Homo sapiens: one gene and its partners. The protein of the gene in region 5 purifies or fractionates together with the protein of the main gene of each other region. This does not show direct contact. Each region holds a gene or a part of one and is shown on either strand. Other genes may lie near its edges.

What was found.
Region 1: the proteins of CXorf66 (region 5) and DSG4 purify together in Homo sapiens (affinity purification with mass spectrometry; one large-scale study listed by BioGRID and IntAct). This does not show direct contact.
Region 2: the proteins of CXorf66 (region 5) and MTHFR purify together in Homo sapiens (affinity purification with mass spectrometry; one large-scale study listed by BioGRID and IntAct). This does not show direct contact.
Region 3: the proteins of CXorf66 (region 5) and HEPHL1 purify together in Homo sapiens (affinity purification with mass spectrometry; one large-scale study listed by BioGRID and IntAct). This does not show direct contact.
Region 4: the proteins of CXorf66 (region 5) and LRP4 purify together in Homo sapiens (affinity purification with mass spectrometry; one large-scale study listed by BioGRID and IntAct). This does not show direct contact.
Region 6: the proteins of CXorf66 (region 5) and SERPINB5 purify together in Homo sapiens (affinity purification with mass spectrometry; one large-scale study listed by BioGRID and IntAct). This does not show direct contact.
Region 7: the proteins of CXorf66 (region 5) and ANKRD50 purify together in Homo sapiens (affinity purification with mass spectrometry; one large-scale study listed by BioGRID and IntAct). This does not show direct contact.

The regions. Positions count from the first base shown.
Region 1 is NC_000018.10:31,400,777-31,404,276, forward strand, and holds part of DSG4 (desmoglein-4 isoform 2 preproprotein), read left to right. Parts: intron 1-104; coding exon 105-244; intron 245-2,639; coding exon 2,640-2,858; intron 2,859-3,500.
Region 2 is NC_000001.11:11,799,465-11,802,964, forward strand, and holds part of MTHFR (methylenetetrahydrofolate reductase (NADPH)), read right to left. Parts: coding exon 3,417-3,500; intron 1,953-3,416; exon of another isoform or gene 1,936-1,952; coding exon 1,697-1,935; intron 859-1,696; coding exon 748-858; intron 1-747. UniProt on the Homo sapiens protein: Catalyzes the conversion of 5,10-methylenetetrahydrofolate to 5-methyltetrahydrofolate, a cosubstrate for homocysteine remethylation to methionine. Represents a key regulatory connection between the folate and methionine cycles.
Region 3 is NC_000011.10:94,027,854-94,031,353, reverse strand, and holds part of HEPHL1 (ferroxidase HEPHL1 precursor), read right to left. Parts: intron 1-3,500. UniProt on the Homo sapiens protein: Is a copper-binding glycoprotein with ferroxidase activity. It oxidizes Fe(2+) to Fe(3+) without releasing radical oxygen species. May be involved in the regulation of intracellular iron content.
Region 4 is NC_000011.10:46,873,551-46,877,050, reverse strand, and holds part of LRP4 (low-density lipoprotein receptor-related protein 4 precursor), read left to right. Parts: intron 1-220; coding exon 221-307; intron 308-413; coding exon 414-585; intron 586-1,084; coding exon 1,085-1,247; intron 1,248-1,369; coding exon 1,370-1,595; intron 1,596-1,947; coding exon 1,948-2,251; intron 2,252-2,634; exon of another isoform or gene 2,635-3,457; coding exon 3,458-3,500. UniProt on the Homo sapiens protein: Mediates SOST-dependent inhibition of bone formation. Functions as a specific facilitator of SOST-mediated inhibition of Wnt signaling.
Region 5 is NC_000023.11:139,959,022-139,962,521, reverse strand, and holds part of CXorf66 (uncharacterized protein CXorf66 precursor), read left to right. Parts: intron 1-3,500.
Region 6 is NC_000018.10:63,493,958-63,497,457, forward strand, and holds part of SERPINB5 (serpin B5), read left to right. Parts: intron 1-2,984; exon of another isoform or gene 2,985-3,500. UniProt on the Homo sapiens protein: Tumor suppressor. It blocks the growth, invasion, and metastatic properties of mammary tumors.
Region 7 is NC_000004.12:124,667,733-124,671,232, reverse strand, and holds part of ANKRD50 (ankyrin repeat domain-containing protein 50), read left to right. Parts: coding exon 1-2,246; 3' UTR 2,247-2,249; intron 2,250-3,500.

The DNA of each region.
Region 1 (3,500 bases), on a different chromosome or scaffold from region 5:
CATAAAAACACAATATTAAAGTTTGCCACATTGTAGCTGTTACATGATTTAAAAGTACTAACTTTCATAAAAGCATGATAACGAACTTTTTTATTTAAAAACAGATATATCATAGGGCATGATGCAGGCAGCTGGTTAAAAATTGATTCAAGAACTGGTGAGATACAATTTTCTAGAGAATTTGATAAGAAGTCAAAATATATTATCAATGGGATATACACAGCAGAGATCCTGGCTATAGATGGTAAGAAAATTTATTTTCAGTATTTTAAGAAAACTAGTACTATTATATTAAATATTATGTTATTCTAATGCTGATATTTGAGTGACTCAGACATTTTTAATGGTGTATGCAAGACTTATGGAAAGCCCTAAACACCTTAAATCAAGAATTGAAGTCAATTAAAATCATAATTTACACTGAAGCCATAGTTTATTTCATCTACTTCCAAAACTGAGTTGTATATGGCTTACAGCATAAAAGTTAAAATATAATTCATCTTCTGATTATGACTTTGTCTCTTGAGTATGGCTAATCTCACTTGTAGGGTATGTTGGGAATGTTTACTTAAAGTAAGGGCTACGTGCTCTACAAAGTTCATTTGGGGATCACCTTGTGGGAAAGCAATGTCTCCAAGAATACAATTATTTTAGATCCATTAAAACTGAACTACAGTGAGAAGCTTGTGTGAGTGTTGCTTGATTAGACATATTTCCATAGTAAGATGCTATGGACCAAGAAAGCACAGATTATTCCAAATATAAGATCCATATTAAAAGTCATAAATACAGATGCACTGACTTAACTTGTAAGCGAGCCACCTCTCACATGGGTAAATCTGTTAAGCAGTCCTCTTGGTGAGCAGCAACAGGATTTGTTTATTTATCAATAGTTAATGATTCTATGAAGCAGTGCCTAGGAAACCAGCTGCTGTAGAACCAAACAAGAGACAAAGGTCAGGAACCACGAAGGAAGGGGAAAGACAGGCGTCCAAGATACATGCCTAATGTAAGACAGATACTGTAGGTTTGCATTGAGTTTATAGCTGACCTTTCCAGTATCAAAACAAAAATAAAGATAAAGAAGCAGCATAAAATTCAAAAAGAAACCATGATAAAACCAAACCAACTATCATCTGTACATCCTGGGCTTCATCCTGTGGCGGGTAAATTTTAACGCCTGGGTCAGTTTTATAAATAACATTGTCTTATTCATTATCAGTATTCTGGAAGCTCTAATTTGAAAATGGATTCTAACCATGTTGATTGCACCCTATGTTTGCATATTGGTCATATGTGAAAAATCTTCAAATGCTAGAATAAATAATTAGTCATTCCAAGCAAATAAAGAGAGAGAAAGTGCTGTCAAAATGTACCAAGAGAAACCCAGAAACAAAGCTGATTGTTTATTCACCTAAGCAGAGTGTCTGCACTGGCACAGAGCTATCTGAATGGTTGGAATAAGTTTGCTTCAGCACACACCATCATCAGGTGAAGAGACAGACCTCTATGCAGAGCAAACTTTACTGGGAAGCAAACACTATAAGCAATAGCTTGAGCTTTGGTTGCCAATCACAAGGTAATAGAAGAGCTACCAAAGATCAAAGAATGACAAATAAAACAATCTGTGGAATAATCTGATGCCTCTCGAATGAGAAGCTAAGTGAAATCGACATCCTTCATCTAGTAAAAACAAGTCCAATGCTGAATAGGGTATATAAACATATTATACAAAATCATATAGACTATAGGTAGGCTCTCAGTTTATTCTCATTCAGTTACCTCAATGACTACTACTTAGGCACACAGAAAACATCTGTAAAAGGAATTTATTGCTTTCTCAGAAAAGGACCTAGTAAGGTACCCCAGAGACGACAACGTTCTAGTTTAAAAGCGAGAAAGCTAAGATTCTTTTCAAGTTAAAAAGAAGCAAAAAAAATTCCGTATTCGCTGTAACAGAACATAGAGTAGAAAAGTGGACTAAAAAGCTCCTGGACTCCTAATCTTTAGTCTTTGGCCCTTTCTGATTAATTATACTATCCAAAAACTTGTTTCAAGTGGATTAGGGAAAAATCTAATAGACTTATATTTGTTTTCAGAAATGCCATTTCAGAAAGAAATAGCATGTAACAGATGCAATTAAAATAAACAGTGAGCACACAAGAAAAACACAAACAAGTATTTATTTCAGCTGTGGTTATTTCTACAAACACAGGACTCAGTGAGCATCCTGAATGGAGGTTCATAACTGACCTGGGGGTCTAATTTATGGGAACAGGGTGAGATTAGAAACCAGTAAACCTTCTCGGAGGAAGAACATTTGATTTTGCGCCTTAGGATGTGTCAGAATTAGCAAAATGAAATGAGGGTGGAAAACATTTTAGGAAGGGTGAAAAGAATGTGCCAGAGTCCAGAGTAAAAAAGAAACTTGTTTAAAGAACTCAAAAGAAGCAGTGTGGCTGGAAGGTAGCACACAAAGGGAAGAGTGACTTTGGGTCACTGAAGCGGGCAGGAACCTGTCAAGCCTCCCAAGTCACGTATATGTTTCCTACAAGTTCCATGGCATCATCAGGGGATATGAGAAAGAGTTTTCTCCCTAACACCATTTACCTCAACACCAATGACCCTTACTCTTTCAGATGGCTCTGGAAAAACAGCTACAGGAACCATATGTATTGAGGTTCCTGATATCAATGATTATTGTCCAAACATTTTTCCTGAAAGAAGAACCATCTGCATTGACTCTCCATCAGTCCTTATCTCTGTTAATGAACATTCTTATGGGTCTCCGTTTACTTTCTGTGTTGTTGATGAGCCACCAGGAATAGCTGACATGTGGGATGTCAGATCAACAAATGGTAAGTGAAACGTAAGCTTGTTTTTTGGACTTTAAGTCCAAAAGCAAAACAATTACCAAAAAATGTGGCAAGTCACTTAATAAAACATTCTACTTCTGTTTCCACAGTTCTTGCCATATTAACATTAAATGAAAAAAATATTTCATGTACACAGAGGATATTTGATAAAATTTTGAACTGAAATGAAATGAGTCAAAATGTTTCATTAATATTTAATTTACAAATAGTAGTGGATAAATACCAGTTTACCCATCATTTTGAGTAGGTAAAACGTTGAACCAATATTTATTCAGTTTAAAATAAACAGAACCCTTAACAAACTCATAAATTAAGAATGTCACAATTCCCTATTCTGAATAAATTCAGACAAATCACATAAATGTCTCTGAAACTCATATATCCCATAGATACATTTAAACATTTACTACTCACTTAGGAGCACATAAAATCAATTAAATTGTTTTTTACAGTAACTATGAGTTCAGACTTATTTTTAAGGGTAAAAATTTAAATCCAAATTGCTCAGTATTAGAGGAATGATTAAACAGAGTACATATTATTAAGATGTGTTAATATACAGCCATTAAAATTAGAATTATGCAAAGTATGTAGATACAAAAGAATGCATAAACCAAAGAAAGT
Region 2 (3,500 bases), on a different chromosome or scaffold from region 5:
GTGCAGTGGGAAGCGGAGATGGGGGACCCTGTGGCCCCAGAGGGAATGAGGGAGGGCCTTGCTTTTTGACCTCTTCCAGTGCCTTGTGAGGTCTGAGGCCATCTCCTGATCTTGGGTTCCCTGCCCTCTGGAATCCTGTTAGTAAATATCCCTCTTTTGTGGGGTGTTGTTTTTTTTTTTTTTTTGAGATGGAGTCTTGCTCTGCCACTGAGGCTGGACTGCAGCGGCACCATCTCGGCTCACTGCAACCTCCGCCTCTTGGGTCCAAGAGATTCTCCTGGCTCAGCCTCCTGAGTAGCTGGGACTACAGCCGTGCACCACCACACCTGGCTAATTTTTGTATTTTTAGTAGAGACGGGGTTTCGCTATGTTGGCCAGGCAGGTCTCAAACTCCTGACCTCAGGTGATCTGCCTGCCTCGGCCTCCCAAAGTGTTGGGGTTACAGGTGTGAGCCACCGCGCCCAGACCCCTCTTTCGTTTTAAAGAAAAGAATAAGGCCAAGCAGGCTAAGGGCACAGCCAGGCAGAGGAACAAAAAGCTAGGGGTCGATGGTGGCAGGCCCAGGAGGGGAGTGGGTGATACAAAAGGAGCAAGGACATGGTGCAGTTCACCTCTGCATGTCCTTCATCCAGCATGGACCCATGAGTGCCCCTGATCACTGTGTCCTGAACCGAACACCGACAGGCTCTCTGGGCATCTCAGCCTCCCTAGCTCCATCCCCGCCACCAGGATGATCCAGCCACTCACCTGCCACACAGATGTCAAAGTAGTCACCAAACTCACTTCGGATGTGCTTCACCAGGTCCACTGCGTAGTTGAAGCCTCCCTCCTCCTCTTCCCACTGGTCACCTATTGGGTCTGCAGGGTTGGTGGAGGTCATAGTCACTGGGTCTCACCCAACCTCCAGAGACCCTTTCTGTTCCCTCTACCTAGCCCCGACACCCAGGACTGCGAGTCCCTGGAAGGCAGAAACTTCATATTATTTAGGTTTGGTTCGTCTCTTTCTAGCACTTGGTAAGACAGCAGGAGGGAAAAAAGCAGCCCACCAGTTCAATATTCACTGCATGCTGACCCTGTGCTGGCGGTGGAGAATAGGAGACCACCGCTGCTTCTCACCGTGCCTGGAGGATTGGAGAGCCCTTCCCTACTTCTACCTGGGCATGCCTGCCACCCTCTCCCATCCCACGGCCTTGGGGCTCCTGCCTCCTGGGAGAATTTTCTACTCATCTCAAGTGAAGGGGTCTTGTGGTAGGGAGCACGAGGCCATAGGATCCCACCCATCAGGCTCCCTCTTCCCACTCTTAGGTGGCCTGACAACAGCGGGCACCAGAGGCCTGACCGGCTATTCTCACTCCTGGATACTCTGTTACTCTGTGATTGGGCCAAGTGCTGGGTGCAGCCAGCAATCGATGCAGTGGTGTAGGCAAGGCAGAGGGTTATCAGGCCGCGACTGCATTCCTGACGGAACTCCTATGTCGAGGTCAAGAGGTGGAAGAGGTGGCTGCCTGTGTGTGGTGCCCAGGATGACTCACTACCCACAATGCCTACTGACACTACTGGCGGGGATGGGATCCTGCGGATCCTCAGCGTGGGGCCCAGGAAGAAGTAAAGGACCATTTCAGGAACCAAGTTCAGGCTACCAAGTGGCCTCCGGGAAAGCCAGAACCCAGAGTGTAGGGGAGTGCTGGCTCCACACCTCCCCGCAGCGCCATGATGTTCTTCAGGCCCAGCTGCTTAGCTTTGTGCAGATGGCCCGTGATCTCCTCCAGGCGCTGACGGCAGCAGGTCATGTGCAGGATGGTCTCCAGGCCACAGTAGTTCACGGCGGTGCTGGCGATCATCATGGAGGAGGTCTCCTTGTCTGAGCCAGGGTCACCTGCTGGGTGCCAGGTCACGTCTATGTAGAGGGGGCCACCTGCTGCCATCCGGTCAAACCTGTAGGGGGTTTGTTTCTGAAGAGAGGTTCCAGGAGAAATACCATCCGTCACTGCCTTCCCATGGGGCCCGGGAGTTAGAGAAGCATCAATGAAGGTTGGAGACAGACCAATCAGCGTTCATATCCTGGCTTTGCTACTTATAGCTGTGTGATCTTGGGTACATTACTTAATCTCTGTGAGTTCTGTTTCCTTATTTATAAGACACGGCAGATAGTAGTACCCACTTCATAATAACACTAGGATGCTGGGCGTGGTGGCTCACGCCTGTAATCCCAGCACTTCAGGAGGCTGAAGTGAGTGGATCACTTGAGGTCAGGAGTTCCAGACCGCCTGGCCAACATAGTGAAACCTCATCTCTACTAAAAATACAAAAATTAGCTGGGTGTGGTGGTGGGCACCTGTAATCCCAGCTACTTGAGAGGCTGAGGCAGGAGAATTGCTTGAGCCAGGAGGCAGAGGTTGCAATGAGCCAAGATCACACCACTGCACTCCAGCCTGGGCCACAGAATGAGACTCTGTCTCAAAAAAAAAAAAAAAAAAAAAAAAGCAACAACAACAACAAAAAACCATAACACTAGGAGAATATGACGGCAGCTGGTTCCACAGAACTTAGAACAGTGCCTGGTGTACAAACCGAATACTCAGTATATGTGAGGTGCCGTTATAATCACTATTACAGAGGTAAGACACAACAACAGCGCTATCATTTTGTGTGAGAGCAGCACTTCAGACTTTTCACAGCGCTTGCCTGTTTATTATCTCAGGTGAGTTAAGACATCATGATTGAGAGTTAGGGGAATCCTAACTGTGGCAAGCACAGCCTCGCTGTAGGAACAGTTAGAAAGAGGGTCAGCAGACTCACTTTCTTTCATGCCACCCCCCAAGCCCTGTGCAGCAGCTTACAGTTATGCAGACCAAGGCCAAGTTCCGAAACGAGACTCAAAAAAAAGCCTGGATGTGCACGAGTACTTGTGTTACAAGCTATCAACGGTGTATTTAAACATCCTTGTGCATTTAAACTTCAAAAACTTGGGAGTGACACGTGAGACGTGCATACAGTAAAAGGCATAAACTTAAAAAAAAAACTGCAATTCATGAAGTGCTAATGTAATTCAGTTGGCATTTCTAGAGTTCAAGAAGCATAATCCAAATTTCTAACTTGCTGAAAACAATCTCACTGCTTTGTGACTTCCTAAACTGCACTCGTGATCCAGCCCCCAAGTTCCCTCAAAGAATACAGTGTGAGAATCAACATTTTTAACCCATTGAAGAGTGTGTCTAAAATACCTTGACACTGTGGAGGGACTTTTACAGGCAACAGAGAAGTTGCAGATCAGATGACCCACTCTGCCTTCTCCTTCCTGCCCCCTCCGGCTGCTTTTTTCTGCCGGGTTAAAGGGCAGCCCAGCCTCAGGGCTGACAGTTTGCTCCCCAGGCACCACCACTCCCGCCTCCCACCTTAACCTTGCATGAGTTTACCTTGAGATGAGATTGACAGCTCCCTCAGCAGTTCGAGGAGGGAAGAATTCCAGGGAGAACCACTTGTCACCAGATTCCAATCGC
Region 3 (3,500 bases), on a different chromosome or scaffold from region 5:
GTGTGTGTGTGTGTGTGTGTGTAACAATGCACATTTACCCATATGCAAAGAATACATCTGGAAAGTGACCAGGGAAACAAAGTGTAGCCTCCAGACTATGAGACTGAAGCCACAGGTGGGAGGGAGGACGGAGGAGAAGTTTACTTTCACTCATCCTCTTTTATACTGTTGTAGGGGGAGGGGCGGTTACTCTGTACCTACAAATTCAATACTAAAAACAAGCTCACGTTTTATTGAAAAAAAAAGAAGACCCATGCTGTTTGGCCTCCAAGGGGCCAAAATTCTCTTGCATGCCTTCTATTTCTAAAAACAAAGCTGCCACAACAAAGGGTGTTGTTGGATTGAGTTCTGCTCTGCAAGGGGATTGGCCTCTGGAGCAGAGAGCATGGCATCTGCTCACTATCCCTGCTCAACCTCTGGCTTGCCAACTCTCCTCTCAGGCATTGAGGCTGAAGTCTTGGGACTGTGTATGAACATTCTGGGTCTCTTGTATCCAAGCATCCACTAAGCCTGCATGTGTCTACCCAGGAGCAAGAGTTAGCCCTCTCCCACTCTATAAGGCAAAGACTTACATTTCCCTGTGCAAGAGAATGGGATATAAAAGTTGGGATGCCTGACCCCTGGACCTTTATAATAGAGGCTGTTACATTTCTCAGACTTGCTTGCAACTTGGAATAGTCATGTGACATAATTCTAGCCAATCAGATGTAAGCAGAAGTCACTCAATGATACTTCTCCAGGTGTAGCTGGAAGACACCATTTTTCTCCTCTTCTCTTCCCTTTATTCATGCCTGAAATGTAGACATGATGACTGGAGCTCCAGCAGCCATCTTGAGATAACGAGGAAGAGGGTCACACCCTAGGAATGGTCAAGTGAGAGCCAAAAGGAACCTGGGACCCAGATGATTGCCAACCTCTGGCTCTCTTTTATGTAAGCAATAATAATAAATCTTTAATCGATTTAAACCACTTCTGTTTTTCAGGATTCTGTTAAAGAGTAGCTGAATACAACTCCTGATTGAACAGGCTGTGCAAAAGGAGAAGGAAGAGGAAGAGGCAGAGGAAGAACTGAGTCATCCCCAAGCTTGCTAATAAGCCTCAGAGTTGCCCAGTTTTATAGCTGACAATGGGTCACCCAGTAAGGTGGCACAGCAAGGATTAGATTCAGAATCCCTGGTATGCTCTCTGGGTTCAGCCTGATGGGTAAAAACTATAATACAAAACTATTATTCATAGGACCTTATCATTCCAACAGGCCCTATAGGGAAGGATGGACATTGGACTCTACTTCTCTACCCTGTTCTCCCACTGCACACATGAAGACACAAAAGTATACACACATGCAGATGCATGTGGAGCACACATGCTCACATCTTCACATATGTACTCCTGCTTTTAATCTGCTAAGAGGTCCTGACCCCACCTCTGCCCAAGACCTTTCTCCATCACCTCCACAAGACCAGGTCTTACCATGAGTTGTCTGGCAAAGGCACTAAATAAGAGGCAAAATAAGTATCAGGAGGGGCAGTGAAGTGTTTGCTGAGTCCCTGTAGGGACTGGAGCACTTATGGTATGCTTCATATTTTGGCACTGAGTTATACATTGACTGTTTTTCATATTCCTGGACACATATCAGTCTTATCACCTATACAGCCAATAGTCACCCCAAGGGGGGATTGGGTTTTCTAAAGCAGTGGTTCCCAAATGTCCACCCATGTACCACTTGCATCAGAATCATTTGGAACATTTGCCAAATTTTTATTCTCAGGCCCCACTTCAGGGCAATGGAATCAGACTTTCTACTGGCAAGACCATGGTATCTGTATTTTTTCCTAAGATCACCAAATGATTCCTGTAGTAGAGCTTTTTAGGGCTTGCGTATTCTAATTTTTCTTTCCTCCTAACCAAAGAAGACCACAGTGATTCTGCTTTTGCAAGTTAGATGGGCCATAGTGTTCTGGCAAATTGGCTGTGAGTGGAAATGCCACGTGTCACTTCTGGGTGGGGGCATTTAATTATTATTGCAAGACCCTCTCTTCCTCTGCTGCAGGAGGAGCCTCCTGCTCAGACAGTGAAGAGAACCCATAGCTTCCTCCTTGTCCCAGGACTTCTTCCCCTGCACTGACTCCACATCAAGAGTAGGACAGGGTTGACCCATGAAGGTGCCCTAGGAAGATACTTCACACAAAACAAAAACTATAGTAACTATTTGATAAAAATTTGTTGAGGCTGGGTGTGGTGGCTCATGCCTAATCCCAGCATTTTGGGAGGCCAAGGTGGGAGGATCACTTGAGGCTAGGAGTTTAAGACTAGCCTGGGCAATACAGTGAGATCCTATACTTTTTTAACTAATAGGAAAAAAAGCTTGAAAGTAAAAAAAGAAGTGGGAAGGGATAGAAATAAGAGAAAGTAGTTTGTTTTAGTGTCTACACAGCAAACCACCCATTGAGAACATATTATGCATTTGTAATAGTAGAACAGAAACTCCAGCTCCTTTGAGTTCTATAAAATGCAAATTTGCCCAAGAAACAAAGTAAGGAAGTAACTTCAAGGGAGCCATCCCCATGAAGCAACCTCCAATTTAAATGGAGTATATTTGTTAGAATGTTGCATTGGTGAGCCATCTGTTGTTTATCACGTAGCCATGGCGAGGGGCTGAGCAATCACTATTCCTCAAGAACATTTTCAATCTGCATTCTAACATCTTGACTCAAGCTAAGGAGGTGTCTACTTCCTGCTGCAAAAGAATCCAGTGGGGCCAGGAAGGTTAACATTAACAACTGCCTTAAAGACAAGATGGGGACTTGGAACATTACATTGCCAGTGCCTGGGGCCAATCCTGTGGATGGAGATATCTTCCAAAAGCAGAGGAGATTAATCATTATCAGAACAAACCTGCCCTTGGGAATCCCCTACACAGTACAGAGTTGGACTTCCAGGTTAGATTCTCAGGAGTTCGTAGCTTGCAGGGATATAAACCACCCAGCAATCCCATGACCTCTGCATCTTTTAGAGGGATGTTTTCTGATAGCTTCCTTGGAGCAATTGCTGATCATCTACTATGTCTGGGACATAAAACTAGAAACTGGGGCCAAGATGTATTAATCTCAGTCCCTGCATGCAAGAGTTTTACCATCTAGTTGGGAAGCAAAACATGCATTTGACAGTAAACACAGTTTTACAATGTTAACTGCCAACTCTACTGTCCAGAGCCCACATGTCTGTGTAGAGGGCAGGGAAATATAAGATGAAGATAAACTGCAAAATAATGTTAGCAGAGAGTGTGGTCAGATCCAACATGTGAGATCATAAGAGTCACAATAAGGACAAGAAATATTGTTTGAGCTTGAGAAGGAACGTTCTTCACCAAGGAGAAAAAAAGATGAGATTGAGACAAATGTCACTTGGAAAAAGGAAGGGTGGAGACGGAGATTGCACATTCAGTTTGGTGAAGCTGCACCCTCCCTATTAGATTAATAATTTTTAATACCATCTGGATG
Region 4 (3,500 bases), on a different chromosome or scaffold from region 5:
AGCACTCTCTCTTTGGTTGTGAGAGCATGGTTTGGGGCCCTCTTCTCTCCGTCTCTGCCAAGAGCTATCCTGCTATGATATTTCTGCGTTTTCCTTGATTTCCTCTGCTAGAGGCTCCAGAGCTCTCTGACATGCTCTGGTGTTTCAAGACATGAATCAGCTGTGTGTGTCCCATTGTAGGCGGTGAGGGTCTAGGTTGAGCCAAGCTTTCCCTCTCCAGGAAAGGTGTACTGGTCTGACAGCACACTGCACAGGATCAGTCGTGCCAATCTGGATGGCTCACAGCATGAGGACATCATCACCACAGGTGGGCCTTCCTCCTAGCCCAGGGACCACCTGTCTGGCAACAGGGCTGGGGAAATAGCCCATCTGTTTTAAAATAGGAGCCAGTGTGCTCTTTTGACTTCCCACAGGGCTACAGACCACAGATGGGCTCGCGGTTGATGCCATTGGCCGGAAAGTATACTGGACAGACACGGGAACAAACCGGATTGAAGTGGGCAACCTGGACGGGTCCATGCGGAAAGTGTTGGTGTGGCAGAACCTTGACAGTCCCCGGGCCATCGTACTGTACCATGAGATGGGGTGAGAGCTGGCTGTATCGCACTGGGTAGTGTGGGGGGCCAGCTCAGCTGGGGTTATGACGGGGTAAAGGTGGGTAGTGGAGAGGAAGCTTGCATCACAGAAACAAGGTGACCTCCCTGGGGCTCTTCCACTCTCTTGTGACTTCTCGCAGGGTGACAGTACAGTGTAGAAGTTAAAAGCATGAGCCTTGAATCAGAATACCAGGATTGAAATGTTTTCATCATGTATTAGCTATATCACTTGGGTCCGGTATTTAACCTCTCTAATTCTCAGCTTCCTTACCTATTAAATGGAGGTGGTAGTGAAAATACATACCTTGTGGCCCTTATGAAGGTTGAGATAATGCACATGAAGTATTTTGCAAAGTACTTTGTCAAGCAAAAATTTTGCCTGACATACTGTAAGTACTCAAGTGTATCTGACATACTGTTAAGTATTCATGGTATGTGGTAGCTGCTGGAATAACTAGCTAATATAGCTAATATTCTTCCTCACTCAGGTTTATGTACTGGACAGACTGGGGGGAGAATGCCAAGTTAGAGCGGTCCGGAATGGATGGCTCAGACCGCGCGGTGCTCATCAACAACAACCTAGGATGGCCCAATGGACTGACTGTGGACAAGGCCAGCTCCCAACTGCTATGGGCCGATGCCCACACCGAGGTGAGAGCCGTGTCCCTGCTGCTTCCCAGGAGCCTGGGAAGATGGGAAAGGCCTGCCTAGGATCTCCATGGAGAGTTCCCAATCTGCTGATCACCACCCCCCACCCTCTCCTTCCTCTGCAGCGAATTGAGGCTGCTGACCTGAATGGTGCCAATCGGCATACATTGGTGTCACCGGTGCAGCACCCATATGGCCTCACCCTGCTCGACTCCTATATCTACTGGACTGACTGGCAGACTCGGAGCATCCACCGTGCTGACAAGGGTACTGGCAGCAATGTCATCCTCGTGAGGTCCAACCTGCCAGGCCTCATGGACATGCAGGCTGTGGACCGGGCACAGCCACTAGGTGAGAGTCAGAGGGCTGGGGCTGTGAGTCAGAGCCTCTGGCTTTCTGGGGCCATCTCAACATCAGAGATATATCCAGAGCACAGAGCTCCTTTACAGCCAGAAAGACGGTGACCTGTTTAAGCTCCCTTCCAGATTGGGCTGTGTTCTCTCTGGGTATGGCTGGTACTACAGCTGTCACCTTCAAAGGACTCCTGGAGATCCTCCTGCAGACCCTCCTTCTACCTCACCCTGCCAGGCACTGAATCCTGTCACTTAGAACAGCAAAGAGCCAGCCACAAACAACTGGGACCTTTGTAAGATTCAGATGATGTTCCAGGCTAGGTGTGAATACTTGTGCTTCTCATCACCAGGTTTTAACAAGTGCGGCTCGAGAAATGGCGGCTGCTCCCACCTCTGCTTGCCTCGGCCTTCTGGCTTCTCCTGTGCCTGCCCCACTGGCATCCAGCTGAAGGGAGATGGGAAGACCTGTGATCCCTCTCCTGAGACCTACCTGCTCTTCTCCAGCCGTGGCTCCATCCGGCGTATCTCACTGGACACCAGTGACCACACCGATGTGCATGTCCCTGTTCCTGAGCTCAACAATGTCATCTCCCTGGACTATGACAGCGTGGATGGAAAGGTCTATTACACAGATGTGTTCCTGGATGTTATCAGGTATGAGCAACACTGAAACCTCCAGAAGACACAGATTTGCTTCTGGTCGCCCATGGGTGAGGTTGTGTTCTGACCACTAAATGGATGAGTGATTTGGCACTTTGGATAGTGAGTTTTAATCCTGACTTGTTCACTTTGTAGTGTTGTCACTTACAGCAGAGTTTCAAACTTTCATTTGTTTAGAGATTATATGGAAGCCTAGTATGTAAAACAAACAACAACAACAAAAAAAACAGGTAAAGTCAGGGGACCTGGAGACTTTCACATCTACCATTGTGCCCTGAGGGAGCTCCAAGAATCCCCTAGGACTTACTGATGAGTAGGCCATATAACCAGTATCTGTATTGCAGTAAAGGAGCCCCAATCAAATGCCAAGTCTTATGGTGGTTTACAAAGCTGTTGTTTTTTATTTTTTCGTTGTTTTATTTTTAGTCTTTAAATTTGTGGCCCTAACACAGCTTAGGAATATGATGTCCTGCCACCAGTAAGAGTGGTTTACCATGGCAGATATTCTCACATGGAGGAACAGGGAACATTCCCCTTTGCTCTCCCCAAGGGATGTATTAGAATCTCAAACTGGGGACAGGTAGGCATATACAGTTTAGGGAAGTCCCCTAGGTGACAGTGACATGCTCCCCATTCTGAGGTAGAGTTCCCTCCTGCCCATAGGGCCTTTGCAAAAGTGCACAATTAGGGTCTGGCGTGGTAGCTCGCGCCTATAATCCCAGCACTTTGGGAGGCCAAGGCGGGAAGATTGCTTGAGCCCAGGAGTTCAAGACCAGCCTAGGCAACATAATGAAACCTCATATCTACTTGTATTTAAAATTGTTTTTAACTTTTAAAAAATGCACAGGTTGGTTTTGACAAATCTGCGTTTCTTATCATCACCACCTAGCAATCCTTGTCTCTTCCCAAAGGTATGTGGGGAATGATAAACTTGTCTTCTAGCAAGACATCCCCTGGCAACCGCCACTATGTCCAGTTAGCAGGAAATACTGTGTCCTCCTAAGAACTGGTTCCTTCATTCTGCAATTATTTTATTGAACATCTATCATGCTGGGTGCTGAGGAATGTACTCATAGATACCTGGTCTCTATCCCTGTGGAGCTTACAGTTCAGTGGGGTCCAGTTATGGGAACATGGGTTAAAGTTCTACTCTATTCTGGGTCAGTCTGGTTGCTCATCCAACACTGGGCTCTCCCCAAGGCGAGCAGACCTGAACGGCAGCAACATGGAGACAGTGATCGGG
Region 5 (3,500 bases):
CAGAAGGAATGGTACCAGCTCCTATTTGTACCTCTGGTAGAATTTGGCTGTGAATTGTCTGGTCCTGGGCTTTTTTTGGTTGGTAGGCTATTAATTACTGCCTCAATTTCAGAACTTGTTATTGGTCTATTCACAGACTTGACTTCTTCCTAGTTTAGTCTTGGGAGAATGTGTGTGTCCAGGAATTTATCCATTTCTTCTAGATTTTCTAGTTTATTTGCATAGAGGTGTTTATACTATTCTCTGATGGTAGTTTGTATTTCTGTAGGATCATTGGTGATACCCCCTTTATTATTTTTTATTGTGTCTATTTGATTCTTCTCTCTTTTCTTCTTTATTAGTCTGGCTAGTGGTCTATATATTTTATTAATGTTTTCAATAAACCAGCTCCTGGATTCATTGATTTTTTTGAAGGGTTTTTCATGTGTCTATCTCCTTCAGTTCTGCTCTGATCTTAATTATTTCCTGTCTTCTGCTAGCTTTTGAATGAGTTTGCTCTTGCTTCTCTAGTTCTTTTAATTGTGATATTAGGGTGTCAATTTCAGATCTTTTCTGCTTTCTGATGTGGGCATTTAGTGCTATAAATTTCCCACTTAACACTGTATTAGCTGTGTCCCAGAGATGCTGGTACGTTGATTCTTTGATCTCATTAGTTTCAAAGAACTTCTTTATTTCTGACTTAATTTTGTTATGTACCCAGCGGTCATTCAGGAGCAGGTTGTTCAGTTTCCATGTAGTTGTGTGGTTTTGAGTGAGTTTCTTAAACCTGAGTTCTAATTTGATTGCACTGTGATCTGAAAGACCATTCGTTATGATTTCCGTTCTTTTGCATTTGCTGAGGAGTGTTTTACTTCCAATCACGTGGTTGGTTTTAGAATAAGTGCTATGTGGTGCTGAGAAGAATGTATATTCTGTTGATTTGGGTTGGAGAGTTCTATTAGGTCCACTTGGTCCAGAGCTGAGTTCAAGTTGTGAATATCCTTGTTAATTTTCTGTCTCATTGATCTGTCTAATATTGACAGTGGGATGTTAAAGTTTCCCACTATTATTGTGTGGGAGTCTAAGTCTCTTTGTAGGTGTCTAAGAGTTTGTTGTATGAATCTGGGTGCTCCTGTATTGGGTGCATATCTATTTAGGATAGTTGGCTCTTCTTGTTGCATTGATACCTTTACCATTATGTAATGCCCTTGTTTGTCTTTTTTGATCTTTGTTGGTTTAAAGTCCGTTTTTTCAGAGGCTAGGATTGCAACCCCTGCTTTTTTTGGCTTTCCATTCACTTGGTAAATATTCCTCCATTCCTTTATTTTGAGCCTATGTGTGTCTTTTCACGTGTGATGGGTCTCCTGAATACAGCATACTGATGAGTCTTGACTCTTTATCCAATTTGCCAGTCTATGTCTTTTAATTGGAGCATTTAGACCATTTACATTGAAGGTTAATATTATTATGTGTGAAGTTGATCCTGTCATCATGATGCTAGTTGGTTATTTTGCACATTAGTTGTTGCAGTTTCTTCATAGTGTCATTGATCTTTATATTTTGGTGTGTTTCTGCAGTGGCTGGTACTGGTTTTTGCTTTCTATATTTAGTGCTTCCTTCAGGAGCTCTTGTAAGGCAGGCCTGGTGGTGACAAAAATCCCTCAGTATTTGCTTGTCTGGAAAGGATTTTATTTCTCTTTCATTTATGAAACTTAGTTTGACTGGATATAAAATTCTGAGTTGAAAATTCTTTTCTTTAAGAATGTTGAATATTGGCCCCCACTCTCTTCTGGCTTGTAGAGTTTCTGCAGAGAGATCCTCTGTTAGTTTGATGAGCTTCCCTTTGTAGGTAATCTGACCTTTCTCTCTGGCTGTGCTTAACATTTTTTCCTTCGTTTCAACCTTGGAGAATCTGATGATTATGTGTCTTGGGGTTGCTCTTCTCCAGGAGTATCTTAGTGGTGTTCATTGTATTTTCTGAATTTGAAAGTTGGCCTGTCTTGCTAGGTTGGGGAAGTTCTCCTGGATAATATCCTGAAGTGTGTTTTCCAACTTGGTTCCATTCTCCCCGTCACTTTCAGGTGCACCAATCAATCGTAGGTTTGGTCTTTTCACATAGTCCCATATTTCTTGGAGGCTTTGTTCATTTTGTTTTTCATTCTTTTTTCTCTAATCCTGTTTTCACACCTTATTTCAGTAAGTTGATCTTCAATCTCTGATATCCTTTCTTCTGCTTGATTGATTTGTCTATTGATACTTGTATATGCATCACGAAGTTCTCGTGCTGTGTTTTTCACCTCCATCAGGTCATTTATGTTCTTCTCTAAATTGGTTATTCTAGTTAGCCATTTCTGTAACCTTTTATCAAGGTTCTTAGCTTCCTTGCATTTGGTTAGAACATGCTCCTTTAGCTCAGAGGAGTTTGTTATTACCCATCTTCTGAAGTCTACTTCTGTCAATTCATCAAACTCATTCTTTGTCTAGTTTTGTGCCCTTGCTGGAGAGGAGTTGTGATCATTTGGAGGAGAAAAGACATTTTGGTTTTTGGAATTTTCAGCATTTTTGTGCTGGGTTTTCCTCATCTTTGTGGATTTATCTACCTTTGATCTTTGAGGCTAATGACCTTTGGATGGGGTTTTTGTGTGGGGGTCCTTTTTGTTGATGTTGATATTATTGCTTTCTGTTTCTTAGTTTTTCTTCTAACAATCAGGCCCCTCTTCTGCAGGTCTGCTGCAGTTTGCTGGAGGTCCACTCCAGACCCTATTTGCCTGGGTATCACCAGCGGAGGCTGCAGAACAACAAAGATTGCTGCCTGCTCCCTCCTCTGGAAGCTTTGTCCCAGAGGGGCACTAGCCTGATGCCAGCCAGAGCTCTCCTGTATGAGATGTCTGTTGACCCCTGCTGGGAGGTCTCTCCATCCGGGAGGCACGGGAGTCAGGGACCCACTTGAGGAGGCAGTCTGTCTCTTAGCAGGTCTGTGCTGGAAGAATCCTCCTTGTCAGAATCCACTGCTCTCTTCAGAGCTGGCAGGCAGGAATGTTTAAATCCGCAGAAACTGTGCCTACAGCCACCCGTTCCCCCAGGTGCTCTGTCCCAGGGAGGTGGGAGTTTTATCTGTAAGCCCCTGACTGGGGCTGTTGCCTTTCTTTCAGAGATGCCCTACCCAGTGAGGAGGAATCTAGAGAGGCAGTCTGGCCACAGTTGCTTTGCAGCGCTGTGGTGAGTTCCACCCAGTCCGAACTTCCTGGCCTCCTTAGCACTGTCAGGGGGAAAAGTGCCTCCTGAAGCCTCAGTAATGGTGGACGCCCCTCCCCCCACCAAGCTCCATCATCCTGGGTCTACTTCAGACTGCTGTGCTGGCATCGAGAATGTCAAGCCAGTAGATCTTAGCTTGCTGGGCTCCATGGGAGTCGGATCTGCTGAGCGAGACCACGTGGCTCCCTGGGTTCAGCCCCCTTTCCAGGAGAGTGAATGGTTCTGTCTCACTGGGCTTCCAGGTGCCACTGGGGGGAAAAAAAACT
Region 6 (3,500 bases), on a different chromosome or scaffold from region 5:
GTCATTATGGGAAGAATTAAGGGCCTGTTTTGCAGGCCAGTCTCATTGATACTGTTGAAGTAAATATGTTAAATAATTAATAGAGGGTGGGCACAGTGGCTCATGCCTGTAATCCCAGCACCTTGGGAAGTCGAGGCAGGCAGATCACGAGGTCAGGAGTTTGAGACCAGCCTGACCAACATAGTAAAACCCCATCTCTACTAAAAATACAAAAATTAGCTGGGCATGGTGGCATGTGCCTGTAATCCCAGCTGCTCAGGAGGCTGAGACAGGAGAATGGCTTGAACCCAGGAGGCAGAGGTTGCAGTGAGCTGAGATTGTGCCACTGCACTCCAGCCTGGGTGACAAAGTGAGACTCCATCTCAAAAAAAAAAAAAAAAAAAAAAAAGAAATGGGTAAAGTACCTCTTTTGTAAATGAGATCAAGGAACTGAGACTGGAAATTTGACCCATTTTATTGGAAAACCCAGACATCTATATGATGATGTGATGTGGTCTCCGTGGGTGGGATCTGACTTGTGTTAGACTGGAAGCAGCACTTCAGTTAGTACAATACTTGAAGGTAGCTTAGTTACCTGTAGCTCCTACGCGTCAGTTCTAGTTTTCATGCTTCTCCCAGTAGTTAGAGTACTTAGCATCAATATCTTGTTTTTGCCAAATATAGTAGCACCTTCTTAATGCTAGCATCCATGAGGAAAAGCCCTGCAAGATACAATCTATGCCTGGGTTAGCCGGATGGCTTCCATTACTCTTTCTTTCTTTGTTCCCATGGAATTTTTATTCATACTCTCCCCTGTCCACTGCCAGAATTTGCTTTTCCACAGTGAAATCTGTTTACTTACATAGATCCCCTACTAGCGCATGGGATTTTTAAGGTAGGGACAATGCCTTATTCACCTCAGTGTCTACAATTTCTGGCCAAGTCCCTAACACATCAGTAGGTGCTCAGCAAATTTGCTGAATGAATGATCAGTCCCTAAGGGTCAGTTTGCTTAAACAATCAATAGCAGACAAAACCTGACTGGCCTTTGGGACTACCATGGTTTCCTATGCAAGACCCATTGGGCATTTTCACTGGGAGAAGACAATGATGACTGTTACTGCTCCTTACCAACTCAAAATATCCATGGGAGCTGAGGGATGGGTAGGAGGTCCTCCTAACTTCCTGAGTTTAGCTTCCCAACTGCAGTGGTCTTCTCAAAGCTGACTGCAGAGACAGGATTGACCCTGCACACAAGAGGTCTGTCTGAGATTCTAGAGACATAGCTTATGCTCTTCACACTCTTGTGTTTTGCACACACAGGTCCTTGAGTTTTAAGCATGGCTTTTTGACCTTCTCAGTATTGTCTTTTATCTGGAGTGGAAGTGGAACGTGACTTTACCCAGCCTCTACTGTGAGTTAGGGAGGGGTGTTGGCCCCACTGGCCCTGACGGCATCCACACAGCCTTTGCTGTCATAGAGTGACCCTTCTGGCTCCTTTGATTAGTGATTGGCTCTCCTCCATAGCAAGGGCTGGCAAAGGGTTCCTAACTCTGTTTAAGTGAAATCTGAAACAGGTTGCCAATGGTGCCTCTCTTCAAGACCCCAGAGCCAGCCTGGAAGGAACACCATGAAAATGTTGCAATAGTCAATGAGTAGAATGTGGACTTTTGTGTCAACCACACTAAGGGTCGTACTTTTTTCATTAAGAAAGTATTAACGTGTGTTTTTTGAGAAGGGAGGAAGAATGTGTGCTATTCCTTTATTCTTGCTATTAAATCATAAAGCTGGGTTATATAAGATCCTGGAAACTCAGCCTTTATGAACAGAATTAATAAAAGTTTGAAATGTCATTGATCTCTCAGTGTTTCACTTGATAAAGCAATAAAATGCTATTCACAGCTGCATGAGGCTACACCCTTCTTTTGAATGCAGATGCTATTACTTCTCCTTTGTTTTCTTTGAATTGCTTTGTCCACCCTAGAACTTTTTGAGTGACATTACTAAACCTTTTCTTATGCCCCGTGGTGTCTCCGGTAAGGGTTAGACTAAATTGGTGAAGTTATATCATTAAAAGTTTAGTATAGTACTTATTCTGATAAAGATATCTATCCATATATATCTATATTAGTATATATGTTGTATTATATTTTCTGGGGTAGATAGTCTTTATTTGGTCCTCTTTTCAGAAGATATGTCGTCTCAACATGTGTTTCAGAAAATAAAGTACCTGTAGTCAGTGCCGATAAGTGAAATTGATGACAGTTTTTGGAGGCCACAACTATGTGCACATTCAGAAACTATGAGCAGTCTAACCTGTTGGAGATTTTTAGACAAATTTCTTTAGGAGGAATATATTTTAAGACAATATCCTCTTTAGGAGAAATAAAGGGAAGAATTATCTGTTAACCTCCAAAGTAGTATGTTTTCCTATAATTCTGTTTTTGGTTACACATAGAGTTGAAGTCTTCCATTATTTATCAGCCAAATATTCAGTGAGAAACTACAAGCTGGGGTAGAAAATGAGACTTAGTTTCTGCCTTGACTGTATTCTAGTTGGGGTGGGAAGTGGAAAGACAATCACTAGATAATATTTCTAACACTGTGGCAAGTGTTAAAATAGAGGTATATACAAAAGTAAAATAAATAACGTTTAGCTCTGCTGGAGAGAGGTATTGGGGAAGGTTCAGCTTAGTATTTGAAGATACCAGATGCAAGTTTACTGGAGTATTATCCTTGCAGGCTTGATATGAAGTTTGAAATTTCTCCCCAAAGAGATTTAGTTAACAGGCAAATATCCCATGGGAGGTATATGTCAATAGGTTATACAACATTACTGTCAGTCTTTTACAACTTAGCGTGAATTAATTTTCCTTCAGGAAATCAGTCATCTCTGGAGCAGAGACAGGAGGCCAGGTGTTAATAGGAGCAAAGAGAAGAAAAGGCCTGGGCAGTGCTTGGACATAAAAGACCTGAACGATCAGACCCTTCCATGGGCTCCCTTTAAGAAGAGCAGGGAGAGACCAAGGGCTAAAGTTGGGAGACTGAGAAAATGCAGCCCACCGGGGCATTACTTATTTCTCCAGCTCTGATCCGCTGTTGTACTAGGGGTCTAATCCGGCCTGTGTCTGCCTCCTTCTTGAATAGCCCAGAGCATTCATCTAAACAGCCTTCCTACAGCAGCTCCCCACTTTAGGTGTGGCCAGACAGGAGTTCTAGACCAGGTTGTCTCCTGGGACATTGACACCGCAGCCAAGTTTATTGGTGCTGAGGCAGACACAGTTGGTGTGGTTGGTTCAGGGGCTAGCATTGGAATAGCGTTTGGCAGCTTGATCATTGGTTATTCCAGGAACCCATCTCTCAAGCAGCAGCTCTTCTCCTATGCGATTCTGGGCTTTGCCCTGTCTGAGGCCATGGGGCTCTTCTGTTTGATGGTCGCCTTCCTTATCCTCTTCGCCATGTGAAGCTCTGTGGGGGTCACCTGCCTGTCCCTGCTGCTGCGGCTGCACACCATTCTTGGT
Region 7 (3,500 bases), on a different chromosome or scaffold from region 5:
TAGCAGCAGCATACATGGGACATAGAGAGATTGTGGAACACCTACTGGACCATGGAGCAGAAGTAAATCATGAGGATGTTGATGGCAGGACTGCACTCTCTGTAGCTGCACTTTGTGTGCCTGCAAGTAAAGGGCACGCATCAGTTGTTAGCCTTTTAATTGATCGAGGTGCTGAAGTAGATCATTGTGATAAAGATGGCATGACTCCACTGCTGGTAGCTGCCTATGAAGGACATGTTGATGTGGTTGACTTGCTTCTAGAAGGGGGAGCAGATGTAGATCACACAGATAACAATGGCCGTACACCCCTCTTAGCAGCAGCGTCTATGGGTCATGCATCAGTTGTAAATACACTTTTGTTTTGGGGTGCAGCTGTGGATAGTATTGATAGTGAAGGTAGGACAGTCCTCAGTATAGCTTCAGCACAAGGAAATGTTGAGGTGGTACGTACTCTACTGGATAGAGGGTTAGATGAAAATCACAGAGATGATGCTGGATGGACACCTTTGCACATGGCAGCTTTTGAAGGGCACAGATTGATATGTGAAGCACTTATTGAACAAGGTGCTAGAACAAATGAGATTGACAATGATGGACGAATCCCTTTCATATTAGCTTCACAAGAGGGTCATTATGATTGTGTTCAAATATTACTGGAAAACAAATCCAACATTGATCAAAGAGGTTATGATGGAAGAAATGCACTGCGGGTTGCTGCATTAGAAGGGCACAGGGACATTGTTGAATTGCTTTTTAGCCATGGTGCTGATGTTAACTGCAAAGATGCTGATGGTCGGCCTACACTTTATATCTTGGCCTTAGAAAATCAGCTTACAATGGCCGAATATTTTTTAGAAAATGGTGCAAACGTAGAAGCAAGTGATGCTGAAGGAAGGACAGCACTTCATGTGTCTTGTTGGCAAGGCCATATGGAAATGGTGCAGGTCCTGATAGCATACCATGCTGACGTCAATGCTGCAGACAATGAAAAGCGCTCTGCTTTGCAGTCTGCAGCCTGGCAGGGCCATGTAAAAGTGGTTCAGCTTCTGATTGAGCATGGTGCTGTAGTTGACCATACATGTAACCAAGGTGCAACTGCACTCTGTATTGCAGCCCAGGAAGGGCACATTGATGTTGTTCAGGTCTTATTAGAGCATGGTGCTGATCCAAACCATGCTGATCAATTTGGACGCACTGCTATGCGTGTTGCAGCCAAAAATGGACATTCTCAGATAATTAAATTATTAGAAAAATATGGTGCATCTAGTTTGAATGGCTGTTCCCCATCTCCTGTTCACACAATGGAGCAAAAACCTCTACAGTCATTGTCTTCAAAAGTGCAGTCATTAACAATTAAATCAAATAGCTCTGGTAGTACTGGTGGAGGGGATATGCAGCCTTCGTTACGTGGTTTACCTAATGGGCCTACTCATGCTTTTAGTTCTCCTTCAGAATCTCCAGATTCTACAGTTGACCGGCAGAAGTCATCACTGTCAAATAATTCCCTGAAAAGCTCAAAAAATTCATCTTTGAGAACTACTTCATCTACAGCAACGGCTCAAACAGTGCCAATTGATAGCTTTCATAACTTGTCATTTACAGAACAAATTCAGCAGCATTCATTGCCACGCAGTAGAAGTCGACAGTCAATTGTTTCCCCATCTTCCACAACACAGTCCTTAGGACAGAGTCATAATTCACCAAGTAGTGAATTTGAGTGGAGTCAAGTAAAGCCCAGTTTGAAGTCAACTAAAGCAAGTAAAGGGGGGAAATCAGAAAATTCTGCCAAGTCTGGATCAGCTGGGAAAAAAGCGAAACAAAGTAATTCTTCACAGCCAAAGGTTTTAGAATATGAAATGACTCAGTTTGATAGAAGAGGACCTATAGCCAAATCCGGGACTGCTGCACCACCTAAACAAATGCCAGCAGAATCTCAATGCAAAATTATGATACCTTCAGCTCAGCAGGAAATTGGTCGATCTCAACAGCAGTTTCTTATTCACCAACAAAGTGGGGAACAGAAGAAGAGAAATGGAATAATGACAAATCCAAATTATCATCTTCAGAGCAACCAGGTTTTTCTTGGTAGGGTTTCAGTCCCACGAACAATGCAAGATAGAGGGCATCAGGAAGTGTTGGAGGGATACCCTTCCTCAGAGACAGAATTAAGCCTTAAACAAGCTCTGAAGCTTCAGATTGAAGGTTCTGACCCTAGCTTCAACTATAAAAAGGAAACACCATTATAAAAGGTAATATTTTGTCAACATAAAGAGTAAAAAACAAAAGTAGAGTTCCCTCTACTTGGAATGCTCTTTTCCTTGATCACAAGGCCAATTCCCTCAGTTAATCTCTACTCAGATGTCATCTGGGCCAGACCTGCCTCATCACCCCTTTACATCAGAATTCTCCTGCCTCTAGCACTCCTTTCCCCCTTGCGTGCATTATGTTATCCAAAGCACTTACTATTTAAAATACTTCAGATGTTTTCTTTATTATTTTTCTCCTCTGAACTAAAAATACAACCTTTGTGAGGGTAGGGTTTTCTATCTGTTCACTACTGTATTTCATGTACTTGGAATAGTGCTTGGACCTATGGTAGTTTCCCAGTAAAAATTTGTTGAATAAGTGAATGAACTAATGAATGAATGAATGAATATACTACTTATGGATCCCAGATTAAGAATTCTTTCCTATTCAGTTATGTCCTCCTTTTAAAAGAATTTTGATGGTGTCAGAGGGAGGGGCTGTTTCAAACTCATCTTTTTGGTTTGAATGCAATAATGTCTGTAGCACATAGTAGATAGTAAATATTAATTTCATTCCTTTTCACTCAGAAAGAAGTCAAAAACTTAGTAGAAGGTAGTTTTTATGATGACAGATCTCTTGAGACTCTTCTAAGTAATGTTTTCACACATAAGGCATAGACGTGAAAAATGATAAATGGATGTTTTTGCAATATTGGTATTTAGGGCACTTTATACCTGGATAAAATAGTCATATTTGTTAAATAAATTTTTTTTTCTCCTTCCTGTAACAAAGGATACTTCATTAATAATATAGGGGATGTTAGTGGGAAAATAGGTATGTAAGTTTTATATTTTAGATACTTTTTCAGAAGCTCATTTCCTGTATTGGAGATAAATCTGAAGATTTTATTAGGGGTCTTTCCTAGCATACACTGCAGCTATATTTATCCCACTTTGCTTAATGATTTTTCTTCCTCTAACAAAGTTATATATACTCTTTCCTTTTTGCTGCTTCTGTCTTTGTAAATATATTTTAGGGATATAATAGGTGAAACACTATTATAGATAAATTCCTCATATATTCTAATAATAAACAGCCTTCAATGTGAATCTAGGGGTGACCAAATGTCATTCAAAAATAATTTGAATAAAGTACTTAATTCAGTCCCCAAATGCAATTCGTTTTTAAAATAATTAGTTCTGATGGTGCACCCTTTCAACTCTCATGATATCTGTTTTAAAGGCAAAATATAA